2 separate regions of the Homo sapiens genome follow, and region 1 is linked to region 2. Evidence: fine-mapped expression QTL. A gene starts in region 2. The other region holds a variant in brackets. All regions are shown on one strand. Distances are between the middles of the regions.

Region 1 (16,092 bases), 40 kb before region 2:
GGAGAATGGCGTGAACCGGAAGGTGGTGCTTTGCAGTGAGCTGAGATCGCGCCACTGCACTCCAGCCTGGGAGAATGAGCGAGACTCTGTCTCCAGAAAAAATCAGGCAAGAATCTACTCTTAAACTACTAGGGAGGAAATGGAAATATATTGCTGTAATGTTACTTTTTTGAGACTGAGTCTTACTCTGACGCCCAGGCTGGGGTGCAGCGGCACGATCTCGGCTCACTGCAACCTCCGCCTCCCGGGTTCAAGCGATTCTCTTGCCTCAAGCTCCCGAGTAGCAGAGATTACAGGTGCCTGCCACCACCCCCGGCTAATTGTTTGTATTTTTGGTACAGACAGGGTTTCACCATGTTGGCCAGACTGGTCTCGAACTCCTGGCCTCAAGCCGTCCACCCACCTCAGCTTCCCAAAGTGCTGGGATTACAGGTGTAAGCCACCACACCCGGCCTGTTGTATTGTTCTTATGCTGTATGTGAAGTAGTGTAATATATTTGAAAGTAGTCTGTGCTGTGTTAAAGATATATATTTTGGATCCAAGCACACTAAAAAACAACAAAACTAAAAATAAAACAGAAGAACTAATGTAATAAGTCAATAAGAGGAGAAAACAGATCTATAAAAAATACTCAATCCAAAAGAAGGCCATACAAAAGGGAAAAAATAATCCCAAGAACAGATGGGGGCTGGGTGCGGTGGCTCATGCCTGTAATCCCAGCACTTTGGGAGGCCGAGGCGGGTGGATCACCTGAGGTAAGGAGTTTGAGACCAGCCTGACCAACATGGAGAAACTCTGTCTCTACTAAAAATACAAAATTAGCCGGGCGTGGTGGCACATTCCTGTAATCCCAGCTACTTGAGAGGCTGAGGCAGGAGAATCACTTGAACCGAGGAGGCAGAGGTTGCGGTGAGCCGAGATCACGCCATTGCACTCCAGCCTGGGCAACAAGAGCAAAACTCTGTCTCAAAAAAAAAAAAAAAAAAAAACAGATGGGACAAAGAGAAAATAGCAAAACTGTATATTTAAATCCAATCACATTGATAATTACATTAAATGTAAATTGTCTAAACATGCCAATTAAGAGAAAATGACTGTCAGATTGGATTTTAAAAAGACTCAAATTATATGCTGTCAACAAGGAACCCACTTTAAATATAAAGACATAGATAAGTTAAAAAGTAAAAAGATGGATAGGTTGGGCACAGTGGCTCATGCCTGTAATCCTAGCACTTTGGGAGGCCAAGGTGGGTTGATGGCTTGAATCCAGGAGTTAGAGACCAGCCTGGGCAACAAAGTGAGACCCTGTCTATACAAAAAGTAAAAAAAAATTAGCCAGGTGTTGTGGTGCAAACCTGTAGTCTCAACTACATGAGAGGCTAAGGCAGAAGAACAGCTTAGAACCTAGGAGGTCAAGGCTGCGGTGAGTTATAACTGCACCACCGGTTATAACTCACCGCAGCCTTGACCTCCTGGGCTCTAAGCTGTCCCCCAGCCCGGGGGACAGAGCAAAACCCTGTCTCAAGAAAATAAAAATAAAATAAAATAAAATAAAATAAAAAAATAAAAAGATGGAATAAGATATATCATGTGAACTTTAATCAAAAGAAAGCACGAGTGGCAACACTAATACCAGATGAAATGGACTTCAGAACAAGGAATATAACTAGACATGAAGAGATATGTTACATAATAATAAAGAGGTCAGTTCATCAAGAAGCCATACAATCATAAACGTGTATACACCAACAGAAAACTTCGAAATAAATAAAGCAAAAATGGCCAAAAAAAAGTGGGGGGTGCGGGGGAGGAACAAATCTACAATTTAGTTGAATAATTCAAAACTCCTCTTTTGGTAACTGACAGAACAAGCAAACCTTACCATCACTACCAACCAACTTAACTTGGCTGACATTTACAGAACATTCCACCCAATGACAGCAGACTACACATTCTACTCAAGTGAACATGGAACATCCACTAAAAGACACCATTCTGGGACATAAAACAAGCCTTGGTAAATAAAAAAAAAAATGAAATAATGAAATTAAATTAGAAATCAACAACAGAAAAAGACTTGGGAAATCCTCAAATACATGGAGCCTAATACACTTCTAAATAACCCATGTAACAAGGAAGAAATCACAAAGGAAATTAGAAAATATTTTAAACTGGGCCGGGCTCGGTGGCTCACGCCTGTAATCCTGGCACTTTGGGAGGTCTAGGTGGGTGGATCACCTGAGGTCAGGAGTTGGAGACCAGCCTGGCCAACATGTGAAACCCTGTCTCTACTAAAAATACAAAATTAGCTGGGCATGGTGGCATGTGCCTGTAATCCCAGCTACTCGGGAGGCTGAGGTAGGAGAATCGCTTGAACTTGGGAGGCGGAGGTTGCAGTGAGCCAGGATTATGCCACTGCACTCCAGCCTGAGCAACAGAGTGAGACTCCGTCTCAAAAAAAAAAAAAAAAAGAATTTTAAACTAAATGCAAACAAAACCCCAATATATCCAAATTTATGAGATGTAAAAAAGCAACACTCAAAAGTTTTTAGCTTTGGATTAAGAAAAAGGGAGGCTCAAATCAATAACTTAAGTTTCTACCTGAAGAATCTGAGGAGCAGGGGAAGCCAAGCACAGTGGCTCACACCTGTAATCCCAGTACTTTGGGAGGCTGGGGTGGGAGGGTCATTTAAGCCCAGGAGTTCAAGGCTTGTACCAGTGTACTCCAGAGAGACCATGTCACAAACAAAACATATGGAAAGCTCGAACCATGAAAGTTTAATAAATCTAAATGAGGACTGGGTGCAGTGGCTCATGCCTGTAATCCCAGCACTTTGGGAGGCTGAGGCAGGTGGATCACCTGAGGTCAGAAGTTCCAGACCAGCCTGGCCAACATGGTGAAACCTCGTCTCTACTAAAAAATACAAAAAATTAGCCCGGCATGGGGGCGGGTGCCTGTAATCCCAGCTACTTGAGAGGCTGAGGCAGGAGAACAGCTTGAACCTGGGAGGTGGAGGTTCCGGTGAGCCGAGATGGTGCCACTGTACTCCAGCCTGGGCGACAGAGTGAGACTCTGTCTCAAAAAAAAAAAAAAAAAAATGGCTGGGTGTGGTGGCTCACATCTGTAATTCTAGCACTTTGGGAGGCTGAAGCGGGCAGATCACTTGAGGTCAGGAGTTCGAGACCAAAAACCCAAAGTGTGGCACCAATTATTTATGATGCGCACGACCAAAAAGACTGTAGTATCCAGAATATTTAAAGTACGCCTACAAATCAAGACATGTACAACAGAATAATGAACAAAGGATATAAATATACAACTCACAGAAGGCCAGTAACATATGAAAAGATGGTTATTCATGCTTATTATTTTTTATTTATTTTATTTTTTTTTGAGATGGAGTGGCACTCTGTTGCCCAGGCTGGGGTGCAATGGCATGATCTCGGCTCTTGCAACCTCCGCCTCCTGGGTTCAAGCGATTCTCCTGTCTCAGACTCCTGAGTAGCTGGAATTACAGGCACGCGCCACCAGGCCCAGCTAATTTTTGTATTTTTAGTAAAGACAGGATTTCACCATGTTGGTCGGGCTAGTCTTGAACTCCTGACCTCAAGTGATCCGCCCACCTCGGCCTCCCAAAGTGCTGGGATTACAGGAGTGAGCCACTGCGCCCAGCTCCACTGGTTATTAAGAAAATATAAATTGAAACCACAGATGAGATTCTGTTTTACACCCCACCAAACTGGTACAATTACAAAATCTGACAATTCAGCAAAGATATGGAACACAGGAACTCTTTTACTACTGGCAGTTTAAATTGGCACCACGTTTGAAGAGCAGTTTTGTATTGTCTAAAATAGACCTACATAGTTACGGCTTAACAATTCTGCTTCTTGGTATAAACACTGGAGAAACTTGCACATGAGCATAAGCAGACATGTATAAGAATTTCTTTTCTTTTCAGAATTCTGTTTCTGAGACAGAGTCTTGCTCTGTCACTGAGGCTGGAGTGCAGTGGTGCCATCAGCTCACTGCAGCCTTCAACTCCTGTGCTTAAGTGATCCTCTGGCCTCTGCCTCCCTAGTAGTTCAGGAAGGAATAAATTTATTTATTTATAAAATAAAAATGCCAAGAATTTATGATCCAGTATCCACTTTTTTTTTTTCTTTTTTTGAGGCAGAGTCTCACTCTGTCACCCAGGCTGGAGTGCAGTGGCACGATCTCATCTCACTGCAACATCCGCCTCCTGAGTTCAAGCGATTCTTGTGCCTCAGCCTCCCAACTAGCTGAGATTACAAGTGCCTGCCACCACGCTCGGCTAATTTTTTGTATTTTTAGTAGAGATAGGGTTCTGCCATGTTGGCCAGGCTGGTCTTGAACTCCTGGCCTCAATTGATCTGCCCACCTCAGCCTCCCTAAGTGCTGGGATTACAGGCGTGAGCCACCACACCTGGCCCAGTATCCACTTCTTGGTATATACTTTTGAAAACCTCATGCAGATTTGCGGAGAGACAAATAATTGGAACATCACTTCTAATAACAATGATAACAAAAAAAATCAGAAGTAACCTAAATGTTCAATAACAGAAAACCAGCCAAAAAGACGTTCTATGGAAGAACACACAGTTGATTAAAAGAACACGATAGAACAATACTTCAAAGTTCTCCGGGCCGGGTGCAGTGGCTCACGCCTGTAATCCCAGCACTTTGGGAGGCCGAGGCGGGCGGATCACGAGGTCAGGAGATTGAGACCATCCTGGCTAACACGGTGAAACCCCGTCTCTACTAAAAATACAAAAAATTAGCCGGGCATGGTGGTGGGTGCCTGTAGTCCCAGCTACTCGGGAAGCTGAGGCAGGAGAATGGCGTGAACCCAGGAGGCAGAACTTGCAGTGAGCCGAGATCGTGCCACTGCACTCCAGCCTGGGCGACAGAGCGAGACTCCATCTCAAAAAAATTAAAAAAATAAAAATTAAAAAAAAGTTCTCCAAAACACAACCTGGAATTTTAAGTTGCAAAATGTAGACCTTATGAAAAACATGTTCACATTTCCATACTGTGCCATGCCCAAAAAAGGTGTTACCTTTAACTGGAGACATTTAAGTTAATGACCTTGGAAAAAGATAAAAATCGTTTTTATTGGCCTGGCACGGTGGCTCACGCCTATAATCCCAGCACTTTAGGAGGCCTACAACAGGCAGATCACCTGAGGTCTGGAGTTCGAGACCAGCCTGGCCAACATGGTGAACCCCCATCTCTCCTAAGAATATAAAAATTAGGGCGGGGTGGCCGGGTGGCTCACACCTGTAATCCCAGCACTTTGGGAGGCCGAGGCGGGCAGATTACCTGAGGTCAGGAGTTCGATATCAGCCTGGGCAACACGGTGAAACCCCGTCTCTACTAAAAATACAAAATTAGCCGGGCGTGGTGACACATGCCTGTAGTCCCAGCTACTTGGGAGGCTGAGGCAGGAGAATCGCTTGAACCTGGGAGGCGGAGGATGCAGTGAGCCGAGATCGCGCCATTGCACTCCAGCCTCGGCAACAAGAGTAAATCTCCGTCTCACCAAAAAAAAAAAAAAAAAGAAAAAAAAAATTAGGGTAGGGTGCTGTGGCTTATGCCTGTAATACCAGCACTTTGGGAGGCTGAAGCGGGTGGATCACTTGAATCCAGGAGTTTGAGACCAGCCTGGACAACATGGCAAAACCTCATCTCTACAAAAAATACAAAAATTAGCCAGGCATGGTAGTGTATGCACCTATAGTCCCAGCTACTGGGGAGGCTGAGGTGGGAGGATCGCTTGAGCCCAGGTCGAGGCTGCAGTGATCTGTGATTGTACCACTGCACTTCACCCTAGGTGACAGAGTGAGACCCTGTCTCAAAAAAAAAAAGAAAAAAGAAAAAAGAAAATACATTTTAAGAAAACTGAAGAACTGAGATATACGTGAGACAAAAGTCCAATGCTGATTCACACGTAATTTGAAAAGCTAATGAATAGAAATGAAGATCTGCTCTCCCCCAAGTAGATACACAGGCACACGTTTTTAGGTTGCAGATGGAAGTACTGAACTGAGAAAAAGCCAGGGAGAGAAGCAAAGATGGTTTTGGTTGTAGATTGTTGAACTTTATTTTTTTTTTCCCCAAGACAGAGTCTTGCTCTGTCGCCCAGGCTGGAGTGTAGTGGTGTGATCTGGGCTCACTGCAACCTATGCCTTCCAGGTTCAAGCGATTCTCATGCCTCAGCCTCCCGAGTAGCTGGGACTACAGGTGTGCACCCCCATGCACAGCTACTGACTGTTGAACTTTTATTTTTATTTTTTTGAGACAGAGTCTCGCTCAGTCAGCCAGGCTGGAGTGTAGTGGCGTGATCTTGGCTCACTGCAAGCTCCGCCTCCCAGGTTCACACCATTCTCCTGCTTCAGCCTCCCGAGTAGCTGGGACTACAGGTGCCCGCCACCACGCCTGGCTAATTTTTTGTATTTTTAGTAGAGATGGGGTTTCACCGTGTTAGCCAGGATGGTCTCAATCTCCTGACCTCGTGATCTGCCCGCCTCGGCCTCCCAAAGTGTTGGGATTACAGGCGTGAGCCACCGCGCCCGGCCCCTGACTGTTGAACTTTAAGCCCTAATGAATTATTAGCAATTATTTATTATTTTGAACCGGTTGCTTCTCCTGCTCCAAAAGATAGATGGTCAAGACTCGGTAGCATACTTTCCAAGATGTGCTTACCTCAACTGCTCTCCTTAATGCGTCTTCAGTCTGGCTTTATGGTATCCCACACAGCAAAAATAACCAAGATGGTCACCTCATCTGTCTCCCCAGATTTCAAAAGAAAAAAATTATGCCAGTCACCCTGCCTATCAGTGGGGTCATCTGGATGTAGCAACCTCATTCTGGGACTCCACATCACACTGATCGCGCACTTCCCCACAAGTGCTCTGCAATCATCCACCCTGAGCAAGCGAGGGCTCTGCCTCTGGAGATCCATTAAAGTGTGTGGGGTCCACATATTTAATGGAACACACTACATACATGGTAGTGTAGAGAAACAACTTTATAACCTAGTCATTTTCAATAAGAAAAATCAGTGCTAGCCTTTGCATTTAAAAGTGTGGAAAAATTTAAATCTATTTTAACTCACTAAGGTAATTAATAGTAAAACTAAATAATTGGCCAGAAAGAGTTGTTTTTCAACTAGAGCCTTTTAAAACAAAAAAGATGTTTGAAACATTTCTTTTTCTCCTACCCAAATGTTGAAATACTGTACTAATGCTTCAGAGAGTAACTATATTAATGAAACATCAACAAGTTACAGATAAACATTTTAATTGATTAAATATATTACTTTCAAGATCTTTTTGAAATCGCACTTGTACTGTACTAATCAACAGCCAAAGGCAATAAGAAAGTTTAAAACCAAAAATATTCTGACATGAACACATGACAGGAACCGCTGCTATGTAAAGTAACATACACTGCTCCCAAGAACAATGATATTTTTAGGAGATAATTCATCTTAACATGTGCAAGGACAAATTTGTAATCAAAGGCTGGAAGAAATATATATTAGTGCCTGCTTTTTAAAAGTTTATTTTACATTTTAAATACAGTATTTTTCTCATAAAAAAAAAATCCAGGAAGTGCCTAACTCCATGGTTTCTATACCATATGTACATGAAAGCTGACAGAGAGCCTGACAAATGTTCTGGATGTAACAGTATGAACACCTATGAGCTGGGACTACTTCTGAATCAAAATTAAAAAACACAAATTAAGCACTGCTTAAGAAAAAAAAAATCCAGTTTCTGAACAACCAAAAGAGAACAGAGTTAGATATGTACAAAACCAGGTATTAAAAAACAGAAAGAAATACAGCACACAAAAAACTCAAACAACCCATATGTAGTGAACTGTATATACTGCAGTTAATGAAAACCCTCCTACAAGAAGTGATTTAGGATTTGAAATTTTAAAAATCTAAGTACTTCAGTAACAACATACAATAACAACATTAAGTGTATATTGCCATCTTTGTCATTTTCTATCTATACCACTCTCCCTTCTGAAAACAAGAATCACTAGCCAATCACTTATACAAATTTGAGGCAATTAATCCATATTTGTTTTCAGTAAGGAAAAAAAGATGTACCTCTTCCCGTCAATAAAGAAATAACACAAATTAAAGCTATAAAATTTAAGCATGGGCATATGTATTTCCAATTCTCCTTAATAAGTAATTCCAAACTGGAATAATGTGGGGTTTGTGACTAAGTAGTAACAAATTAAAAGAAAATAGACTGTCTCTGGCAGTGATTTCCATATTAGTGCAATGTTACTTCCCATATGCTGAATTATATTTAAATGATTTTATGTATTTTAATTCAGTAGGTGCCAATTTGAGTTTATAAAATCCTTAATTTTATTCTTTGTGCAGAAAAGTTTCAATTTGAGATACTCTATGAAG[CCAAAA/C]CAAAACAAAACAAAACAAAAAACCTGTATTTTGCTACTAGTAGTATGAATACCAAATAAAGATACAAGGATTCAAAGTTTGTGGAAGTTCCTGAAGAAAAATCTCTGAGGTGTTCTACGTATCTTGATACTTCAATTATCAATTAGTTTTGAACATTCTAGTTTAAGATTATCTCAGAAAATAATTCTCTGTAATATAACTCTGAACTAAACAGCTGCACCCAAAGCAGAAACAATCTGGGTCATTCTGAACGAGATCAAACTGAGGCCATTTCTTTTTCTATTATAATCTGTGAGGTGTTGAGTTTTTAAGTTTTAAAAATGGCCTTTAATCAAAGCCAGCTGCACCTGATATAGACTTGTTAACTTATGGATTTCAAATTAGAGGACACTGTAACTACGGGCTCTCATAAGACACATGGAGCAGGCAGCAAGGGGCTAACCATCAGCCGGGTAAGGTCAACGTTGGGGTGTTTTATTTTGGAGACTTTAAATATTTAACATGTAGCTCATGTAACTTCAGCATCCACTAGTGACTCTGCTGGTCAGCACCCAAGGGCTGGATGAGTCTGAGGAATCTCCTTTAACCCCAAAGTATGAATGCTAAAGAGTCTCAAGGAAATTTTGATTCCCAGCAAGAGTTCACAAACCATCAGACCAATATCAATAAGGTAAACTGTGACTCTAATGCTCCACAAAAGTAAAAAGAAATTTCCAAATTAAATGTCATCTTCTGCCCAACCCTAGACTCCAGACTTTGTAACAACATTTTTATCTAGTATAATAGACTCTGTAGTAGACTGATTTTGACCGCCACAAAGAGTAGGAGTTGTCAAACTTGAGGAGATAGACTCCTCTCCCTGGATATTGATGGCTGCCAGCATACACCTCCTCATGACAGTCCCGTCGGTACACAGGCACAATCTCATCCAGCAAAGGCTTGTTGGCATTCTTTTTGGCTTTCTCTTCACAACCGATGTTTTCTGTAAGAACAGAGACAAGTCAATGAACAGATTCAGGAAAACCACACTTGCATCAGGCAATTAAAATCTATCCTTTCTTTTTTTTCTGGAGACAGAGTCTTGCTCTGTCACCCAGGATGGAGTGCAGCGGCGTGATCTCAGCTCATTGCAACCTCCACCTCCTGGGTGCAAGCGATTCTCCTGCCTCAGCTTCCCAAGTAGCTGGGATTACAGGCGTGCACCACTACATCCAGGTAATTTTTGTATTTTTAGTAGACATGGACTTTCACCATGTTGGCCAGGATTGTCTCAATCTCCTGACCTTGTGACCCACCTGCCTCGGCCTCCCAAAGTGCTGGGATTACAGGCGTGAGCCACCGTGCCCAGCCTATCCTTTCTTTGAGAAACTGCTCTTGTTGGGAATTCTGTTGAACCATTTAACAAGTTATGTGCATGTGAGCATTTATTAGTTCGTTCATTCATTCATTCATTCACTCATTCATTCAAATACCTAAGTATGTGCTATACACCAAACCCTGTTCTGAGCCCTGGGAGCCCAGTGATGAACATCTAGTGGTAGCAGTGGTCAGCATCCTATCTCTTTCTGTGCTTACTACCATTCCTATTTCAAGGTCCCATTTTCCCCTTTCCATAGCCATTCAATTCCTAATTCATCCTCAGGAATTTCACTCATCTGAGTAACATGAAAATGTTGCTCTCATCATCCTCCTTCTGACCAATATGAGTCCTCCCCATTTTAGAAAGATGGAAGATGATTTGTGAGGACTATTGCTTTCTGTATATCTTAAATATAAGCAGTAAAATGAAAAAATCATAGTAGAGAGATAGGCATTCAGAGATACTCTGAAAATTCAATTATTTTCACTAGGCCAATTTAACCCAGAGATGATCTAAGTGGCAAAAAATGGGCTCTGAAAGGTTTGCCCCGGTTAAGAGTTTTTTGAACTGTAATGCTATGAGGTTAGGAAAAAAAATGCCTCTAGAAACCTACAGGAATGAGAAAATTATGAACCAGCTTCGAAGTCACAGTTTAACATATTTAATACAAACCAGCTCAAAGAGGTCAAGGGAGTATTCAGCACAGAAGACAAGACTTTCGGGTTTATGGTTGTTGTTTTTGTTTGTTTGTTTGTTTAAGAGACTGGGACTACAGGCATGGATTTTCAGGTTTATAACATGGCAGAGTGAATTCTGGCAACACACTGAGTGATGCTTGTCAATGGCCACTATCAGGAATTTAAAACAAGGTAAGTTTGAGAAATTCTCACCGTCTATAGCAGATTAAGGAGATATGATGACTGACTATAATGTGGCATCCTGGAAAGGATCTTGGAACATTAGGTAAAAACTAAAAACATCTGAATAAATATGGACTTTAGTTAATTAATGAATCAATGTATCAATATTGTTTCATTAGCTGTGATGAGTGCACCACAGTACAATGTAAGATGCTAACAACAGAGGGAACTTGGTGCAGGGTATATGGGTACTCTTTGTGCTATCTTTGTAACTTTTCTGTAAATCTAAAACTATTCTAAAATTAAAAGTTTATTTTAAAAAAGCAGATGGCACTCTTATAAAGGTAGGTCAAAACCAGATTTACTTAACCACAGAAATACCTATAATTAAGCATGTTTCACATGCAAATGAGAAATACAGAACCATCCAAAATGTACACTATTGTTGACATCCAAGAAATAGACTGGTCCATTGATTCAAGACTCAAATTTTGTTTTAAATCTATAAAACTAAAGATTACTGGGATAGATGAAAAGGCATCTTTTATGAATTTAAGCCAAGGTTTAGGACCTGTAAACAATGAAGAAAATGGAGAATTAAAACAGGAGGATGTGTTACCATCCATGCTTCTTCAGAGAAAGCAAACTCCTCTGTCTACCTTTCAAGACCTAAGGAAGAAAAACCAAACCAAAACCCAAAAAACTCAGACTCTTCTACCATATGAAATACAAGACACGGTAGGACAGTAGCTTCTAAGGCATATGGACAAATACAATTTGTGAGCTAAATCTTTAAATGGGATGAAGTGACGCTCATGTAATGAACAATTCTTAGGAATGATAAAGCTTCACTGCTGTGAGGCTAAAATGTTTTAGCTGCAAATCATTTTATGATTAGGAATGGTACAAGTACAGGGAATGCCATCTTTCATTTGAGGGACATATTAGAACTAAGATCAAGGATATTAAGGTTCTTACCTCTAGAAATGAACCCCTGCCATTTTCACTAGTGATCTTCCCAACACCAATATAACCCCAAAACTATCATCAGCTGAGGGTTCAGACTAGGCAGTAACCACCTTTTAGAAGCTCTCTAATAGGCAAGCCAGGAGAAATACATTACCTCAACCAACTTCTGAACAGAGAATTCTTATTCACAAAGCTCTTTCATTTTTTTTTTTTTTTGAGACGGAGTCTGGCTCTGTCGCCCAGGCTGGAGTGCAATGGCACGATCTCAGCTCACTGCAATCTCCACCTCCCGGGTTCAAGCGATTCTCCTGCCTCAGTCTCCCAAGTAGCTGGGATTACAGGCATGTGCCACCATGCCTGGCTAATTTTTGTACTTTTAGTAGAGATGGGGTTTCACCATGTTGGCCAGGCTGGTCTTGAACTCCTGACCTCAGGTGATTCACCCACCTCAGGCTCCCAAAGTGCTGGGATTACAGGTGTCAGCCACTGCGCCCAGCCATCTTTTTTTTTTTTTTTTTTTTTTTTTTTTTGAGATGGGGTCTGGCTCTGTGGCCCAGGCTGGAGTGAAGTGACTTGATCTCAGCTCACTGCAACCTCTACCTCCTGGGCTCAAGCAATTTTCCCACCTCAGCCTCCCAAGTAGCTGGGACTACAGGTGCACACCATCACACCCAGCTAGTTTTTTGTATTTTTGGTAGAGACAGGGTTTCATCATGTTGCCCAGGCTGGTCTTGAACTCCTGAGCTCTAGCAATCCATCCGCTTTGGCCTCCCAAAGTGCTGAGATTACAGGCAGGGGCCACCGTGCCTGGCCTCACAAAGCTCTTTGTAAGTACAGTAATTTGTATGCATACAAAAAACTTTCCTTCCCAGACATCTGCAGACAGTCTGACTTTAATGAGTCCCTGTGATGCAACAGAAAGGACAGAACAGGTTCTGATGTTGTTGAAGGTCACATGAGAAAACAGTAGTGCCCCCTGGCTAATCTGCTACAGTCCTGCTCTCTAACTGCTTTTTATTTTTTTTAATTTTTTTTTTTTTTTTTTAGAGGGAGGGCCTAGCTCTGTCGCTCGGGCTGGAATGCAGTGGTGTGATCATATAGCTCACTACAGCCTCGAATTCCTGGACTCAAGCAATCCTCTTGCCTCAGCCTCCCATGTACCTGGGACTACAGGTACATGCCACCACACCCACCTAACTAAAAAAAAATTTTTTTTGTCGAGATGTGGTGTCACTCTACAAAACGGGTTGCCCAGACTGGTCTTAAACTTCTGGCCTCAAGAGATCTTCCTTACTTGGCCTCCCCAAAAGCTGAGATTACAGTCATGAGATACCATGCCCAGACAGGCTTTTTCTTTTTTTTATTTTTGAGACGGAGTCTCGCTCTGTTGCCCAGGCTGGAGTGCAGTGGTGTGATCTCGGCTCACTGCAACCTCTGCCTCCCAGGTTCAAGTGATTCTCCTGCCTCAGCCTCCCGAGTAGCTGGGATTACAGGCACCCACCACCACGCTCGGCTAATTTTTATATTTTTAGTAGAGACAGGGCTTCACCATGTTGGCCAGACTGGTCTCGAACTCCTGACCTTGTGATCCACCCACCTCGGCCTCCCAAAGTGTTGGGATTACAGGCGTGAGCCACCGCGTCCGGCCCAGGCTTTTTCAATCTTACATTTTTTCTTTCTGTCTCAGTCAGTATTATTTATGAGCAATGCTTTGCCTTGCTGGTGGTACTCAGGAATAAAGACTGATGAAAACAAAATGCCGTGTAAGACAAAGCAGCTCATGCTTCCATATTTACCAGCTAGAATCTGGACCTGTGGTATAATGAAGGATTTTAAATCTGCTTCTGGGGTAAAAGTCAATCTGCAAGATGTACTGAAATTTCTGGGATACTCTGATGGTTCATGTAGATAATGATACGGAATTATCTTTGGATTATCTTTTGATTAGCATTAAATATTAACTGTTAAATTGAATATTAAACTTAATTTCAAGAAATGTATGGCACACCTGCAGTGTATGTTTCTGTAGATAGCCCCAGAGGCCCCAGGGTGTTGCATGGTATGGTAATATGATTGGACAACTCTGTACTTCACAAGTTGATAGAACTTTCAGGCTTATTCCATGTACTTTCAATAATATCTTTTTAACTTTATCCCACTGTAATCTGTAAAGCAACATTGCCAACCCTCTTCAAGAACAAGCAGTCTGTTTACAAGCCACCTGAAAGGTCAGTTAGTCTGGAAGAACTGAGACATGGTGCTTTTCCATTCTCACAGGGCATGCATTCCATATCACTTTCAATCAAGTCAACAAATAAATTAAGTGCTTATTAAGTGTATATAAACAAACCCTACATTCTAACTTTCCTGGGTAACAAAAATAAAGAGACCCTCTTCTCAAAAAGCAATACATTTATAACCTATTTCTTAGACCAAGATATTTTAGACTGTCCTTTAAAACACCCAATTTTGTCTACTTATTCAGAGGAAGTAAAAAAATTCCACTCTAGCAAAATAGGGATTTCCAAATGGAAAAATAATTGAAATTTTTTTAAGTGGACTATTCTGGTGAGTTTCTGTATTTACATAAAAAATTTTAGAATAATGACCTAAAATGCTAATATCAACAATATAAATTTAAATAAATGCCAGGGTTGACAGGAATTCTTACTTGCTCCTTTAAAATTTTTCAAAGTGGGTCGGGTGCTGTGGCTCACGCCTGTAATCCCAGCACTTTGGGAGGCCGAGGCGGGTGGATCACAAGGTCAGGAGTTCGAGACCAGCCTGACCAACATGGTGAAACCTCGTCTCTACTAAAAATACAAAAAATTAGCCGGGCACAGTGGTGCGTGCCTGTAATCCCAGCTACTCAGGAGGCTGAGGCAGGAGAATCGCTTGAACCTAAGAGGCCGAGACTACTGTGAGCAGAGATCATGCCACTGCACTCCAGCCTGGGTGACAGAGTGAGACTCTGTCTCAAAAAAAAAAAAATTTTTTTTGAAGTAATCTTGCATATTTGGCTTTTCAACACACACGGTTAGAAGTAAAATAGTATTCAGAAAGGAGTAAAATAGCAAATTGCCAAATAGATTTTCCTGGCATTCAGAAAAATTCAGGTTTAGGCCCCAGTCCCCTACAGGAGCCTGGCCTCATAACATTTTCAGCCCAAGGTCCCACTAATGAAGAAAGTGTTCCCTAACCATGAAGTGTTAGTCAGGAAGCATAAGGCTGGGTGACACCTGAACTATGTACCATTTCTGCCAACACACAACCCAGCAGCTACTGAATATGGACCAAGGGTTCTACCTTCTTCCTCCTCGTCGTCATCGCTGGACTCACTGACATGCACGCTGACAGCAGTGTTTGGAGAGTCTGTCCATTCAAAATACACCCCAAACCCAATGTCATAATTGTCTGTGGCAAATTCCCAAAAGAGATATGATCCTTCTTCATGGGTGGGTACTCGAACAGTGACCACTTCTCCTCGGCCCACTGTAATCACGGAATCTGCATCCTGCTGAATCTTCTCTTTGAAGTCTTTGATCTGAGGTCGTGTCCACATGGATGGAGCTGCTATTACTGGAAGAGATTCTAAAGGCAATAGGTATTAAAAAGCTAAAGAAAAAGAGCCTTCACCCTGCAGGTAGCCACATTTTCATAGCACTACCTGATCAGTTGTACTCAGGCACCAAGTACAATATGGTCTAGCTTAGATCAAGGACTTGGAGGAATAAAAAAGCCTCCCCATGGGAGTCTCTCCAGATTACTATGTTTAACAATGTTGCAGGCACTCAGAGGTCATCGTACTTCTTCAAGTAACAATGGCAGCCCACAATTTTAGAAACGAATTTTTTTCAACACTCCCTCTATGGGGATTCAAGAATGACCTTGGGAAGGCCCCAGCTGGAGTGAGGGAAATATTCTAGCAAGGAAGAGAGATTCTGGCTTTAGGAATAAATTACTCTTGTGGATGTGAACAAAGAAAGCTGGACTTTGACTTCAGCCTGTCTGTTGAAAAATTCTTCACCTCCAACTATCCCAAAGTTCTAGGGGCTATTCTAAAGGAGCTCAAAGAAACAAAAACTCGGACAGGATTAGAACCACTAGGGACTGAGAAAAAGGGGTAAAGTCTTGTTACTGAGCAGTACCTATGTGCACTTGACTATGCAATAAGTTTTTCAAAGTTAGTCACAGAGCCTTTGAAATATTTTCTCTCATTTGAAGATGCTAGTATAATCCCTTGATAAGAAAAAAAAAGGGAAGGGGGCAGTAAACCAAGGGATTTCAAAGCCTTTTCTGAAGCAATTATTACTTGTTCTAAACAGACAAGGAAGATCTCTGAAACCAAATTTCTTATGAACCATACCACCATCCCTGACCACTGTCACTGAAATGCTCTCCTCTTCCTCCTTACTTAGTTAACTCCTCTTGCTT
Region 2 (16,092 bases):
TCAGATCTTCTATCAATTTAATCCATAGACTAGGGGAGTCAGATCATCAGAGGATATTCCCAACCATGAGAGTCTGAACAGGTTGTCCGGTACACGTTAGGGCTTGCAGGAAAATCTTAAGTGCAGACGGATTTTTAGTATGAGTTGTTTTGAGCCACTATTTTTTTTTTTTTTTAGACAGGGTCTTGCTCTGTAGCCCAGGCTGGAGTGCAGTGGCACGATCTCACTCACTGCAACCTCTGCCTCCCAGGTTCATGTGATTCTCCCACCTCAGCCTCCTGAGTAGCTGGGGCTACAGGTACAAGCCACCAAGCCTGGCTAATTTTTGTGGGGTTTTTTTTGCAGAGATGGAGTTTTCCCATATTGCGCAGGCTGGTCTGGAACTCCTGAGCTCAGTGATCCACCTGCCTCAACCTCCCAAAGTGCTGGGATTACAGACGTGAGCCACTACACCCAGCCCAAGCCAATAAATTTGTGGTAATTTGTTACAAGAGCAATAGGAAACTAACATGATATACAAAACACATTTTTCAGGCAATTAAAAACAGATAATGGGATGTACATTATGTTCTTACTAAACTCACAAGTATTTAACTTTACAGTTCAAATAGGACAGCATAATTTGATACCAAGTCCAAAGCTCTGAAAGATTACAATTAAGTCCCTCCCACCTGAAATTAAGTATACAAAAGACTATTAGGGGCTGGGCGCAGTGGCTCACACCTGTAATCCCAGCACTTTGGGAGGCCAAGGTGGGCGGATCATCAGGTCAGGAGTTCGAGACCATCCTGGCTAACATGGTAAAACCCCGTCTCTACTAAAAGTACAAAAAAAAAAATTAGCCGGGCATGGTGGCGGGCGCCTGTAGTCCCAGCTACTCGGGAGGCTGAGGCAGGAGAATGGCGTGAACCCGGGAGGCGGAGCTTGCAGTGAGCCGAGATTGCGCCACTGCACTCCATCCTGGGCGACAGAGCAAGACTCCGTCTCAAAAAAAAAAAAAAAAAAAGACTATTAGGCTCACACCTCAATTGCTATTTTATAGGAGAAATCATATTTTTTCTCTTCTCTCTGGAGGCAAAGGAAAGTACCAAATTATTTCAATGTCCCTTCTAGCCTTCATTTAATGAAAGAAGGCCATAAAATCTACGGCGTGGAAAGGATGTTAAAGATAGGTGATTGAATTGCAAACTAAATCTCAAATCCTCTCTACAATATCCACCCAGCAATTGCTAACCTATGCTTGAATACTTCCTGGTGATAAGAACTCACTGTCCCAAAGCAGTCTAATCCATCTTTGAATAGCTGTGATTCTTAGCTCTTTATTCTGAGGTGGTATCTCTCAACTCCATCCACAGGGTTTATTTCCTGTCCTCAGCATTAACTAAAACACATCTAACTAATTAGACCTCAAGAAAGTCACAAAATATGTATTGTGTTTGCCCTGAGTTCTCTATTCTCTTGGCTACACATTCCCAGCTTAGTCAATCATACTTCAAATTTAAATTTAATTCCCAGCTCTGCTATTAAGTATATAACATGGACAAGTTATTTAATCTTTTGAAATCTGTTTTGTTATCAATAAAATAAATACTGCTCCTTAGGGTTCATATGAGTGTTAGAAATGTGTCCCAAAATCTTTGTATAGTGCCTGCACAGAGCAGACACTGACTAAACAGCAGCCATTATGATAATAATGGCAGGGACTTGAATTCCCACTAGGTACAAGTTGCTCTCTTCTGAATGAGCTCCATTTTGTTTTTAACCCTAAAGGATGATGCCTCAAACAAGCAGTATCCACGGCTTGTTTGAGGTGTACTCCTTGGTGCAGAGGAGAGCAGGACTATCTCTCTCTTTCCCTCATCCTAGTTACCATATTTCCACCAAAGCAGCCTAAGATCAAATCTGTTTTATTTCATGGCCATATCACACTGTTGCCTCACAGAGAATACACTTTGATTAAAATCCATCTTTTAGAAATATTAAAACTGGGCCAGGCGTGGTGGTTCACGCCTGTAATCCCAGTACTTTGAGAGGCCGGGTGGGCAGATCACCTGATGTTGGGAGTTTGGGACCAGCCTGACCCAACATGGAGAAACCCCATCTCTACTAAAAATACAAAAATTAGCCGGGTGTGGTGGTGCACACCTGTAATCCCAGCTACTTGGGAGGCTGAGGCAGGAGAATCGCTTGAACCCAGAAGGCAGAGGTTGCAGTGAGCTGAGATCGCACCACTGCACTCTAGCCTGGGCACCAAGAGTGAAACTCCGTCTCCAAAAAAAACCAAATATTAAAACTGAAAAACCAACTAGGTGCAGCAGCTCACGCCTGTAATCCCAGCACTTTGGGAGGCCGAGGTGGATGGATCACAAGGTCAGGAGTTCAAGACCAGCCTAGCCAACATAGTGAAACCCTGTCTCTACTAAAAATACAAAGATTAGCTGGGTGGGGTGGCACGTGCCTGTAGTCCCAGCTACTCGGGAGGCTGAGGCAAGAGAATAGTCTGAACCTAGGAGGCGGAGGTTGCAGTAAGCCAAGACTGGGCCATTCCACTCCAGCCTGGGCAACAGAGCAAGACTCTGTCTCCCAAAAAAAAAAAAAAAAAAGGATAATACAATGCAGTATTCCTAAATCAATGAGTAGGAAACACTCTGGGAATTGCCTAGCATATACTAACTGCTTAGTAAAAGTTTTAAGACTTCCCCTCCATTAACTCAAAACATCCATAATCAATTCTCAGAAGTACCTCCTTTTCAACAACATAAGCAGCCACAAAAATACCAATAGCCAGGCATTCTGCTAAGAGTTTATATATATAATTTCTTATAATTCCTAAAACAACCCTTTGAGTACAGGAAAGCACAAAAAGTTAACAAAATTAAGTGGCAGAGCAAGGAAAACACACCCTAAAGAGTGTTGACTCCAGAGCTTACCTTTCTAAATACTGATTCACAGTAGCTCTTGTATTAGTTAACTGATAAAACATCTGCTCCTGGGCATTGGCTACACTGTCCACTTTCTGAAAACTCATCAAGCTACACACTTAGTATTTGTGTACTTTAGTGCACTGCATGTGTGATAAAGGGAAGCCTCGGGAAAATGTTAAAATCACTTACATTAAAAACATATACACACTGGGCACAGTGGCTCACGCCTGTAATTCTAGCACTTTGGGAGGCCAAGGCAGGTGGATTACCTGAGGTCAGGAGCTCGAGACCAGCCTGACTAACATGGTGAAACCCTGTCTGTACTAAAAATACAAAAATTAGCTGGGCGTAGTGGCATGTGCCTGTAATCCCAGCTACTCGGGAGGCTGAGGCAGGAGAATTGCTTGAACCCAGGAGGCAGAGGCTGCAGTGAGCTGAGATCGCGCCATTGCACTCCAGCCTCGGTGACAGAATGAGACTCCATCTCAAAAAAAAAAAAAAAAACAATGACAACAACAACACATACACATTCCTGAATCCAGTCAAAGGAAAGTTTTGGTTCAGCTCAAATTTAACATGAACTTGGTGGCTATAATTGTTTTTCTGTCTTACATCTGTCTCTCTTAGGTCTATATATCCTCCTACAGTATTACATACTTATGTCTAAAGGTAAAGATAATAAAAGGGAAAAAGAACTCTAATAGATGTTCCATAGTAACAAACTTGAAATTATCTGAGGATAGACCACTGAAGTCCAGGAGGCACACTAATTATATATGTTTCCAATGAATAAATTACAGCTGTACAGTATTTTAAAACATTAAGGAAGCCATTTATAAATGCTCTTGTAGTTGCCTATGTTTAAAGAAGACAAGAGGAAATGGAACCATTTCAGTTGTCCATTTGTTTGCTATCATTAATATAATTCTCTCCCAACATATAATACTCTACTATCAGTAACACAATTGGGTATAATCAATAGCAATGCTAGTAGAACTATTCCATAAAGAAAATGAGTCCAAGACTTACCTTCCAAATAACTGAGGGGCCTGAGGCAGGATCCTTAACTCAGAAATGGGATTAATACCCTTACAGAAGGCCTCTTGGAGGATTAAACAAAATAATGTACATACAGTTTTTGGCATAGTACCTGAGATTTAGTAAACATCTACTCAATAACTATTGACAATTATTACTCTGAAATCTTAAATTAATGTAAACAATCTACCAGCTTAATGTAATACAGTAATAAAGTATTAGAGAAGGAAAAGTCCACCCCAAAGAACTCTAAAAACCAAAATACAATTCCCCAGGTCAACTCCATCCAAGAAGTATAAAGGTCATAATAAAATGAACCCACTGGATTCCTGTGGGTCCTTAACCCATGGAGATAAGAAAACCTAGCTTAACATTGTTAAAATAGAACTGGGCAACTCTGGCCGGGCGTGGTAGCTCATGCCTGTAATCCCAGCACTTTGAGAGGCCAAGGCGGGTGAATCGCTTGAGCTCAGGAGCTAAAGACCAGCTGGGCAACAAAGCAAGACCTCTGTCTCTACAAAAAATACAAAAATTAGCCGGGCATGGTGGCTCGTGCCTGTGGTCCCAGTCACACAGGAGGATGAGGTGGGAGGATGGCTTGAGCCTGGGAGGCATAGGGGGCAGTGAGCCAAGATCGCACTACTGCCCTCTAGCCTGCATAACAAAACCAGACTGTCTAAAAAAAAAAAAAGAATTGAGCAACTTTGCTCCTCCCTTTAAAAACCTCCAGTGGTTCCTCATCTTCTAATTTACTGACAAAAAGGCCGAACTATTAATACTTACATGGCCAGGCGCGGTGGTTCACGCCTGTAATCCCAGCGCTTTGGAAGGCCGAGGCGGGGAGATCATTTGGGGTCAGTCCAAGACCAGACTGGCCAACATGGTGAAACCCCATCTCTATTAATAATACAAAAATTAGCTGGGTGTGGTGGCACAAGCCTGTAAGCTCAGCTACTCACGAGGCTGAGGCAGGAGAATCACATGAACCCAGGAGGCAGAGGTTGCAGGGAGTGGAGATCATGCCACTGCATTCCAGCCTGGGTGACATAGCAAGACTCCGTCTCAGAAAAAAAAAATGACAATGGCATGCAAGTCCTTCCAAGAATTGAACTCAGTTACCTTCCCAGCTCTCTCCATCAAACTGCTTTCTATTTTCCATTTTGCAAACAGACATGCTTTGACTTCTCATGGCTTTCATGGCTCTTGGCCTTCCCCCCTCTGGAATGGCATCTGCTCCCTCAGTCCTCCACACTGTACTGCAGTTGTCACTGGGTCCTTAACTCCTCTTTTGGACTCTAAGCAAAAGATAACGTACTATTCATTTATAGTTGTAACCTAATATAAAACTATCCATACTGAAAAGTCAATAATGTCTGAAATTTAGATGGTAAAATGCTAACTTACATTTACCCACATCTTCATCTATTTTACTTTTACTGTCATAAAAAATTAAGAATAGTTGACGTAATTGATTCAGTCACTGGCCTATTACCACCCTGACAAGGATGGAATAAGAAATAGGGCTTGTCATTTCCAACCCAAGCTATTTGCAATGGAAAAATATATCCATGCTTTCAAGATTCGTATTTATTCCACAGTGGAAGAGAAAATGTAATGTTCTTTCCTTTATTTATTTATTTTTTTGAGATGGAGTCTTGCTCTGTTGCCCAGGCTGGAGGGCAGGGACGAAATCTTGGCTCACTGCAAGCTCCGCCTTGAGGGTTCAAGTGATTCTCCTGCCTCAGCCTCCCAAGTAGCTGGGACTATAGGCGCCTGCCACCACGCCCAGCTAATTTTTTTATTTTTTTATTTTTAGTACAGATGAGGTTTCACCGTGTTAGCCAGGGTGGTCTCGATCTCCTGACCTTGTGATCCACCCGCCTCGGCCTCCCAAAGTGCTGGGATTACAGGCAAAAGCTACCACACCCGGCCGAAAATGTAATGTTATTTCTAATTCTCGTGAGATACTGGTATAAAACCATAGAATAGCGATTAAAAGTCCCAGCAAGACTGACAAAACACCATGTGTTCCACCAGAAAAATCCACACATTAAAACAAAGGTGCCGGGCACGGTGGCTCACGCCTATAATCCCAACACTTTGGGAGGCCAAGGTGGGCAGATCACCTGAGGTCGGCAGTTCGAGACCAGCATGGAGAAACCCCGTCTCTACTAGAAATACAAAAGTACCTGGGCGTGGTGGCACATGCCTGTAATCTCAGCTACTCGGGAGGCAGAGGCAGGAGAATCACTTGAACCCTCGAGGCAGAGGTTGCAGTGAGCTGAGATCGCGCCATTGCACTCTAGCCTGAGCAACAAGAATCAAACTCTGCCTAAAAAAAAAAAAAAAAAAAAAAACCAGGCTGGGCACAGTGGCTCACACCTGTAATCCCAGCACTTTGGGAGGCTGACGCAGGAGGATCACGAGGTCAGGAAATCGAGACCATCCTGGCTAACACGGTGAAACCTCGTCTCTACGAAAAATACAAAAAATTAGCCGGGCGTGGTGGTGGGCACCTGTAGTCCCAGCTACTCGGGAGGCTGAGGCAGGAGAATGGAGTGAATCCGGGAGGTGGAGCTTGCAGTGAGCCCCGAGATGGCACCACTGCACTCCAGCCTGGGCGACAGAGTGAGACTCTATCTCAAAAACAAAAAACAAAACAAAGGCAGCATTACTTGGCTCACTCCACATTCCATAATTCTTCTGACTGCTTTTACATCCTTCCCTTTTGTCAGTTAGTGTCTCATATACTAACAGTCTCCAATGACACATGCAGAAAGGTAGCTTTTAATTGCTACACAGCTATTTCTCCTTTTTAGTACCTGGATATTGCTTTGAGAACTTCATTTAGGAAGTGAGTGAACCACACCTATCAGTGTAGCTTTATTCTCTAAGGTGACTAACACCTAGGCCCCAAGTTATAAGTTTCCCCAGGATTCCTACCACTCAAGACACATGTTAAAATAATCTGTTAGGTTAAGACCACTGAATCTTAAATCTGAGACATCATATTTTATAGAATCCAGCTCCCTTTATACATATGAAACTGATTCTGGAAAAGTTAATTGTCTAGTTTACAAGGTAACTAGAATCCAGAGCTTCCTGACTCTCCAAACAATGTTAAGTATACTACACGTTACAGTGTTTTAATCTTTTTCTTTGTTTTGAGACAGAATTTCACTTTGTCGCCCAGGATGGAGTGCAGTGGCATGATCTCGGCTCACTGCAACCTCTGCCTCCCATATTGAAGCGATTCTTTTTTTTTTTTTAGACGGAGTTTTGCTCGTCGCCCAGGCTGGAGTACAATGGTGCCATCTTGGCTCACTGCAACCTCCGCCTCCCGGGTTCAAGTGATTCTCCTGCCTCAGCCTCCCTCAGTCCTGCAACAGAGCAGGACTCCAGCTCAAAAAAAAAAAAAAAAAGGAATTAGTTCATTTCTACTCTTACTCTCTGCTACAATATACTTTACTGAAAAATAAGTTCCAAGAATAAAAATTTAAGATGGAATGTAGCTATATGAATTGTACAGAAACCACCTGATTTTTATCAAGTGGTAATATATCATCACTACAGCAAACTCTAAATTCAAGCCGGTGATCTAAAAGTCAAATGATCCAAAACCCATTAGCCATTACCAATTCCCCAAGCTAGTTAGTACACAGAGGGCTCAACTCATTGTGCAATGACCACGAATATGTCATTGAATGTGAAATGATCAAATGTTCTGGAAAATTTATAAAACTTTCACTAGTTTGCACAATTAAAGTTATTTTGAGAGAAAACAACTTCCGTGTGTATCATTACATTGAACTACTCAACTTTGGCTAGTAAAATATGTACTCCAAAAGGTACTCCCTCTGGGGAAAGTGTCATAAATATGCTGCTCTGGAATGTACGTGGAACCTAGCAACCACTTTTAAAGTTGCATTTGCTGATGTCCCTCCCTGTCCATTCGCCCTACAAGACTAAGTATCTTTAAGAATCAAACTAACGGGCTTTCATCAGTTTTTCCCACTGACAAAAATCATGTGATTGGTCTCTCCACCATTCGACTAAGTGAATCACCCAATTAAAAAAAAAAAAAACCGCACACTACAATCTTGCTCTAAGACAAGAGACATTTAACAATTAATTATGCGAAAAGCACAGAAGGTACTGTTAGGCCTTACTCTGAGAATTCACTCTTGCACATTGCTTACAATGTAAAATTTTAACCACCTAGAAGTTACTAGAACATAGTGGACATCTCTCCTCAAGAGTTTGACAAGCCGGAGAGGATGATGAGCTTAACACTTTACTTCCTCCTCTCTGCCACATCAATCTGCCGGGGGATCAAGTCCTGTTCCAGTTTATGGTTCCCAAGAATGGCTGGAAAAGCTATGTATGGAACCTCTTGACAGATTTCTTCCACTAAGGGTAAAAATCGGCGGGTTCTGATGTGACAAGCCATGGGAAATAGGAAAAGAAAAGCGTCAGTTAAAAAAATAATAATAATAAAAGGCAATCCCAGAATGGGATCCTTTGGAAGAAAGTGGGCTCATTCTTCCACCAGGGCTCCTGGAAATCCCAGAAGCTAAATCAGGTAAAATGTCCCGGTAACCTCTGGGAGGCGGGACATGACTGCTAAACCAAGGTTGCAGGCCCGTCAGGGGTGTGACCTAGTGGCCAAGCGGGTAGTGACAAACTTCGGGTACCCCCAAGGAGGGAACCCCGCTTGAGTCACCACAGCCCAGTATGAGTGGGTGAGGGCAAGTCTGGTCCAGTCACCCTGGGGACCACAGCCCACGCCGGGCTCCCGGGGCCGGGCAGAAGCGGCGGGGGTGGGGCTGGCCCGGCTCACCTTTGAAGAAGCGCAGTGCCAGGCCGTACAACTCCTCCAGGCCGAAACCCCAGCGCTGCTCCAGCCGCCGCGCCTCCTCCGCCGCGCCCCCAGCCGCCGCCTCCCCGGGCTCGGGCTGCTCCCCTGAGGCGCCCGGGCCGCGACCGGATCCAGGTGGCGAGGGCGGTGGCAGCGGTGGCGGCAGCAGCGGGGCGCCCTCCGCCCCAGGCCGCTCCTCCGGGTCCGGGCTGAGCGTGAGGCCGTCGACGGACACCTCGAGTCGCTCTGCGTTCAGCACCGCCGCCATCTCCGGCTGCTGCACCTCCTCAGCGGGGACAGACGGCAGCCACGTATCGACTTCCTGCTGACCTCTGACCTCCGCTTACCGACACCGGAACTTCCGCTGCTGAGGAGGCTGGAGGGCTCCGGGAGAGGGGCTGAGGCCTGGCGCCCCACCCCCTCCGGAATCGTCAGTTGCCCTGGCTCAGCGACCACCCTTCAGGCTCCCCAACTCCCGTTGGTCCCGAACTCCCCTCCCCCGCACCCCATCCTTTCGGATCCCAGTTGCTCCAGGTGGGCGGGTGCTACCACCCCCACCGCTCGGTTCGGTGCTGCGGCTGTCAGTGCCCAGCAGGGGCGGGGTCAGTGGAGCCCCGCGCGGGGGTCGGAGTAGGGAGGATTGACGAGGTCGGCCAGCACCCAACCCTCCAGGTCAGAGGCCCTTCACATTTGCAGGGGCCTGCGTGGTTGGCAGAGCTCTTTTGCCCACCACCATCTCGTTTGGCCTTCACAGCAACTCTAAGGAAATGCAGGGCAAATTCCCAATTTTTTTAAAAGGGGAAACTGAGACTGCAGAGAAATTCAGTGACTTTGAGGTTGCAGACGGGGCTGATCCTGGTTTTGCAGGAAGCGCAGCTCATACAATTTGTGGGGACCCTCATTAGGAAAGAGTACAAAAAGTTACGCGCAGAAGGGTAGGAAAGTGAATGTATATTTAGAAAGAGAAAGAAAAAACAAATGATATTTTAAAAGTTAATAAAACCCACAAACATCACACACATAACCGTAATATTTTCATTGACTGCCTGATATTCTTCTACAGGGCGTCTGAGAGCCCAGAAACCTATTTTTTTCTAAAAGATTGAAGTCGCCCCCGACATTATGTATATTCACCTGTGTTTCCAGACTTTGGGAGCACCATTTATGATCATTTTTCCCACCTTTGTTTTGGCTGCGTACTTCTGATTGCCTTTTCCTATAACAATTATTTTGTAACTTTTTTTTTTTTTTTTTTTTTTTGTTTTTTGCAGACAGTCCTGCTGTGCCACCCAGGCTGGAGTGTAGTGGTGCAATTCGGTTCACTGCAACCTCTGCCTCCCGGGTTCAAGCAACTCTCCTGCCTCAGCCTCCCAAGTAGTTGGGATTACAGGTGCTCACCACCACGCCCGGCTAATTTTTGTAAACTTAGTAGAGTCAGAGTTTCCCCATGTTGGCCAGGCTGGTCTCAAACTCCTGACCTCATGTGATCTGCCCGCCTCAGCCTCCCCAAAGTGCTGGGATTACAGGTGAGAGCCACCGCGCCCGGCGTATTTTGTAATTCTCTATAAAGAAAAGAGAAAGATCAGTCTTTTCTCCAGCATGGCTGATTAAATTTGTTTCTTAATAATTGTTTATAAATTTATTTCAGCATCACAACTCATTACTGATATTGTTAACGTACTTTTTTAGGGTTATTGTTCAGTTTGGGAAACCTCTCTCAAGTTTCATGGATGTGCTATGAGATTTTTATGGCCGTTTGGCTGCTTCAGTGACAATTTTGTGTGTGGTTTTTACTGAAGCCCTAGAGAGTTTTTTTCTTTTTTTTGAGACGGAGTCTCTCTCTGTCGCCCACGCTGGAGTGCAGTGGCGCGATCTTGGCTCACTGCAAGCTCCGCCTCCAGGGTTCACGCCATTCTCCTGCCTCAGCCTCCTGAGTAGCTGGGACTATAGGTGCCCACCACCATGCCCGGCTAATTTTTTTGTATTTTTAGTAGAGACGAGGTTTCACCGTGTTAGCCAGGATGGTCTCAATCTCCTGACCTTGTGATATGCCCGCCTCGGCCTCCCAAAGTGCTGGGATTACAGGCGTGAGCCACCGCGCCTGGCCGAGGGTTTTTTTCAGGACAAGATTTGTATGCTGCATTCAGACAGGATCTCATTCATTACGGTGGATAAGACATATAACTTCACATACAGACAGACTCACTGTAGTACAACTATAAGTTTTTGTCCCATAAACATAGGGTTTCTAATCTATTCCCTTTTGCATGCTTCACATAAAAACATGAAGTATGGTGCAGTTATAATTGCAGATATGACTTAGATTCTCAGTGAGTGAGAACCTTCATTTTGATTAGGCATTGAGAGAATTGATCCCTCTCCTTATAATCTTCCACTTCTGATGGTTGGAAGCATATTTTTAAGTCTTTTAATTTTAATTACTCAAAGAAGCTTCATTTTTTATTTAGCTTTCTGACCCTGTGCTTGTGCCTTCAACACTCTCACAATGATTTTCTTTTCCTCGATAAGGAAAACATGCTTGATCCTGTCACAAACACATATAGCACACATGGAACCACCATAGGCCCTGCTGACATGGTTTTTTGTGTTTTGGACAATCTCATAAGACTTCGGGTCTTATAGCACGAACCCCTTGAAGTCTGCGTGGGTACACACCACAGTAGATTTTGGTGCTTTCCCAGCCTTCTTGGTATAAAGGTAAGCAATTATATTACCAGGGGTTCAGGACAGCCTAGTTTTATTAGAAGCTGTATTGTAGGAAAGCCTACAACAGTATGTCAAACGCTGGACCATTCTATGTGCCTATAGACAACATCCCCAGAAGAGGAAAAAGAATGGAAGAATTTTACTAGCTCTTTCTTTTCTTTCAAACCTTGTTGCTCCTCCACTACCCAAGTACTTCCTGTGTCAGGCAACATAGGGTTCCTTCGCCCTTTGGCCTTGCACTTTTGTGACATGGTGCTGGCTGAATTGACATAATGGGCAGTAGGTATATTCCAGAAAGCCATTCCTACACCCATGGTGAGCAATAATTTAAAAACATGCAGAAGTGACTGCAAACCACTTAAATGCATGCCACTGACCCCAAATTAAATGTATCCCTATTCATTGTCCCCTTAGCCAAATCCCCCACAAAGCCTATAGCCATTTCAATACCTCCTAACCAGAGGAGGATGACGAAGGGAAGTTAGAAACGAAGACAGAGGTCTTAAATATCTTACTCTCAAAACTGTTACAGAAGTGTATACTGCTAAGGCCGCTCTAAGGGCCTTGGGAGGGGCCTGTGTAAGCAAGGGGCCCTGAAGCTTGAGCTTCATTAACTTTATGGTAAACCCACTTCTAGTTGTAGAGGACTAAAAACTCTAATTCTACTGCTCTAAGGTCTGTGTTCTTCCCACTTAGCTTGGATCTTTATATTTAGCTTCATTAGCTTAAAAATATGCATATTATGTGCCTAACCTTCAAAATGTTATATATACATATATATTCCCCTGTGTTTTGCTCAGTGTTCTACCTTTAACATTCAATAACTGTTGGGATGATAATGAGTAGGGTAAATATAACCCTTCTTCATGAAATGCTAGATTCTGTTTTCCAAGTTTTCACGATAAGCATTTCTTTTGTAATCAGAAAAAAAGTTATTTTTTTAAAAAGTATACAATAATTATTAAAACCTATAGAATATACCTAGGAAGGTAGGTAAAATATGGTAATTAATTAATTACATGGACTTTTTATACAAAAATTAGCTGGGCGTGGTGGTAGGCACTTGTAATCCCAGCTGCTCAGGAGGCTGAGGCAGGAGAATTGCTTGAACCTGAGAGGTGGATGTTGCAGTGAGCCAAGATCACACCACTGCGCTCCAGCCTAGGTGATGGAGAGAGACTGTCTCAAAAAAAGACATACATTAAAAAAAATTATATGGACTTTTTTATTGTTTTGTAATTTAACATATTGAATATGGTTGGAAAACCCAAACATCCTCTAGACCAAGCATCTGAACCTCTTGCTAATCGAAACATCAAGGGCCATTGTGTAGGTGGTTGCCCTTAATGACTAAAAACATTAGGGGTTGGCACAGTGCGTCATGCCTGTAATCCCAGCACTTTGGGAGGCTGAGGCAGGAGGATTGTTCGAGCCCAGGAGTTTGAGAACAGCCTGGGCAGCATAGGAAGACCCTGTCTCTACAAAAAATAAAAAATTAGCTGGGCATGGTGGCATGTGCCTAGGGTCCAGCTACTTGGGAGGCTGAGGTGGAAGGATCACTTGAGCCTGGGAGGTCAAGGCTCCAGTAAACCATGATGGCGTCACTGCATTCCAGCCTGGGCGACAGAAGGAGACCCTGTTTCTAAAAAATAAAATTAAAAAATTAGAGAATATAACTTCGCTTTAACAGTTCACTGTGGGAGATGAGTTCCAGACACGCTCACCTGAATGTCTTATTAAACTGCAGATTCTGACTCAGTAGGTATAGAGGGAGGCCTGAGAGTATACATTTCTCATAAGCTTTCTGGTGATGCCGATGCTGCTGTCTACAGACCACACTTTGAATAGCAAGTCTAGGAAACGTGTTTTTCCCATGCTTTATTGAGTATAATTGTTGTATAATAAACTGCAAATATTAAAGTTTACAATATGATGAGTTTTGGCACAGGCATATACCTGTATAACCATTACCATAAAATAACAAACATCCATTACTGTTTTGTAATTCCTTCTTCCCCCAAGATTTTTCAATAGATCTTTGTTATAATGCACTTGTCACAGTAGAATCTAACTTACATAAACAGTTCAGCGCAACTATCTGTTTTTCTTTTCCTTTTTTTTTGAGACGGAGTCTCGTTCTGTCGCCCAGGCTGGAGTGCAGTGGCGCGATCTTGGCTCACTGCAAGCTCCGCCTCCCGGGTTCACGCCATTCTCCTGCCTCAGTCTCCTGAGTAGCTGGGACTACAGGCTCCTGCCACCACACCTGGCTAATTTTTTTGTATTTTTAGTAGAGACGGGGTTTCACCGTGTTAGCCAGGATGGTCTCAATCTCCTGACCTCGTGATGCGCCTGCCTTGGCCTCCCCAAGTGCTGGGATTACAGGCGTGAGCCACCGTGCCCGGCCAACTACCTGTTTTTCTATATCCCTGTCTTTTATATGTGAGGAGGCACACAGATTGATCAAAAAGGTGTATTTTTGAAAACTTTCAAATATCTTCTCCATGTCTGTTCTTTTATAAAAGAGGATACTTTTGGGTGTTCTGCCTATGGTGTACCCATTCTTTTATTCCTTTACTTTCTTAATAAACTTGCTTTCATTTAAAAAAAAAAAAAAGGATACTTTTTTTTTTTTTTTTGAGATGGAATCTCACTCTGTTGCCCAGGCCGGAGTGCAGTGGCGCGATCTCGGCTCACTGCAACCTCCGCCTCCTGGGTTCAAGCAATTCTCCTGACTCAGCCTCCTGAGTAGCTGGGATTACAAGAATGCACCACCAGCCAGGCGCGGTAGCTCACGCCTGTAATCCCAGCACTTTGGGAGGCCGAGGCGGGCAGATCGCGAGGTCAGGAGATCGAGACCATCCTGGCTAACACAGTGAAACCTCGTCTCTACTAAAAATACAAAAAATTAGCTGTGCGTGGTGGCGGGCGCCTGTAGTCCCAGCTACTCGGGAGGCTGAGGCAGGAGAATGGCTCGATCCCAGGAGGCGGAACTTGCAGTGAGCCGAGATCGCGCCACTGCACTCCAGCCTGGGTGACAGAGCAAGACTCCATCTCAAAAAAAAAAAAAAAAAAAAAAAGAAGAATGCACCACCATGCCCAGCTAATTTTTGTATTTTTAGTAGAGATGGGGTTTCACCATGTTGCCCAGGCTGGTCTCGAACCTCTGATCTCAGGTGATCTGCCTGCCTTGGCCTCCCAAAGTGCTGGGATTCCAGGCATGAGCCACCGCGCCCAGCCAAAAAAGGATACTTTCCAATCCGCAAACTTTGCTGTGTGAATTTCTTAAGCTCCATTCCATTCAATAATTTTCCACATGAAGTGTTTACCATTTCTGAAATGCTTTCTGAAATTTAGACTTTCCATTTGTTCTCTCCACATATTTTCATCTTTTCTGTAAATATCGTGGATCACTAGACAGGGACTGAGTTCAACTTTTTGTTTCCTGCTTTTTCTGGTGAACTAATAATCAGTACTCAGTAAAGTTTTGCAGTTAGTCTTATTTAGTAATGCAGTACCCTTTAGTAGTGAAAATTATTTTGTATTCCTTGACTGCAAGCACTTAGAGATCAAGGGGCATTTCCCTGGACTTCCACAGTCCCTAGCACAGGATAGGAAACATGGTAGGTGTTCAGAATGTCTTACTGAGTGAATGAATGAAGGTGTAATTACACTATTATGTACGATATCAGTTCAGCTCAACATACATGTAAGGAGTGCCTTGTATACCAGGTATTTTATTTTATTTTATTTATTATTATTTTTTTTTTTGAGATGGAGTCTCGCTCTGTTGTCCAGGCTGGAGTGCAGTGGGATGATCTAGGCTCATCACAACCTCTGCCTCCCGGGTTCAAGCAATTCTCCTGCCTCAGCCTCCTGAGTAGCTGGGACTATAGGTGCGCACCACCATGCTCAGCTAATTTTTGTATTTTTAGTAAAGACAGTGTTTCACTATCTTGGCCAGGCTGGTCTCGAACTTGACCTCGTGATCCGCCCACCTTGGCCTCCCAAAGCGCTGGGATTACAGGCATGAGCCACCATGCCTGGCCGTATACCAGGTATTTTAGGATACAAAGGTGAGTGCTGTGGTATCTACACCCAAGGTGTTTATGGTCCAGTAGGTGAGACTGTGGCAAAAGCACCAAATTAGGGCCAGGCTTCCAGTGCTGGAATTTTACCAACTCGTGACGTTGAGTCAGTTACTTTACTTCTGTTTCCTCCTTTATAAAATGAGAATAATAGTACTATCCCCCTCTTAGGCTGTTGAGAGGACTGAATCTATGAATACTGTACATGTAAAGCACATAGAAAAGGACCTGTTTGAGACTAGGCACAGTGGCTCACACCTGTAAACCCAGCACTTTGGGAGGCCAAGGTGGGAGGATCACTTGAGGCCAGGAGTTCAAGACCAGCCTGGACAACACAGCGAGACCCTGTCTTTACAAAAAATTTCAAACATTGGCCAGGTGTGGTGGTGCACACCTGTAGTCCTAGCTATTCAGGAGGCTGAGGTAAGTGGATATTTGAGGTTATAGTGAACTATGATCG

Alleles and levels. Alleles are on the strand shown, and positions count from the first base shown. SD is a standard deviation of normalised expression in the study named.
As copies of C replace CCAAAA in region 1, the expression in monocytes after interferon gamma of the gene that starts at base 9,154 in region 2 goes down (small effect, 0.32 SD a copy in Fairfax 2014).

Evidence for each region.
Region 1: its variant is fine-mapped to the expression of ACBD3 in monocytes after interferon gamma (Fairfax 2014, PIP 0.95). The same link has a PIP of 0.9 or more in NK cells and monocytes.

What each region holds. Positions count from the first base shown.
Region 1 is chr1:226,137,371-226,153,462 of GRCh38, forward strand. ACBD3 (acyl-CoA binding domain containing 3) reads right to left here. Exons shown (of 8, transcript NM_022735.4): 7 at 14,965-15,249; 8 at 7,309-9,451. The coding sequence ends at 9,240. It overlaps ACBD3-AS1 (ACBD3 antisense RNA 1), which reads left to right and starts at 10,633. Exons shown (of 2, transcript NR_146443.1): 1 at 10,633-10,698. It also overlaps the pseudogene LOC124904586. The variant CCAAAA/C (reference allele first, on the strand shown) is at 8,464.
Region 2 is chr1:226,177,588-226,193,679 of GRCh38, forward strand. ACBD3 (acyl-CoA binding domain containing 3) reads right to left here and starts at 9,154. Exons shown (of 8, transcript NM_022735.4): 1 at 8,803-9,154. The coding sequence starts at 9,088. LOC101927247 (a long non-coding RNA gene) reads left to right here and starts at 10,309. Exons shown (of 2, transcript XR_001738504.2): 1 at 10,309-10,346. It also overlaps the pseudogene RPL34P7. RefSeq lists enhancers at 4,338-4,838, 4,839-5,339 and silencers at 8,645-9,124, 8,761-9,055.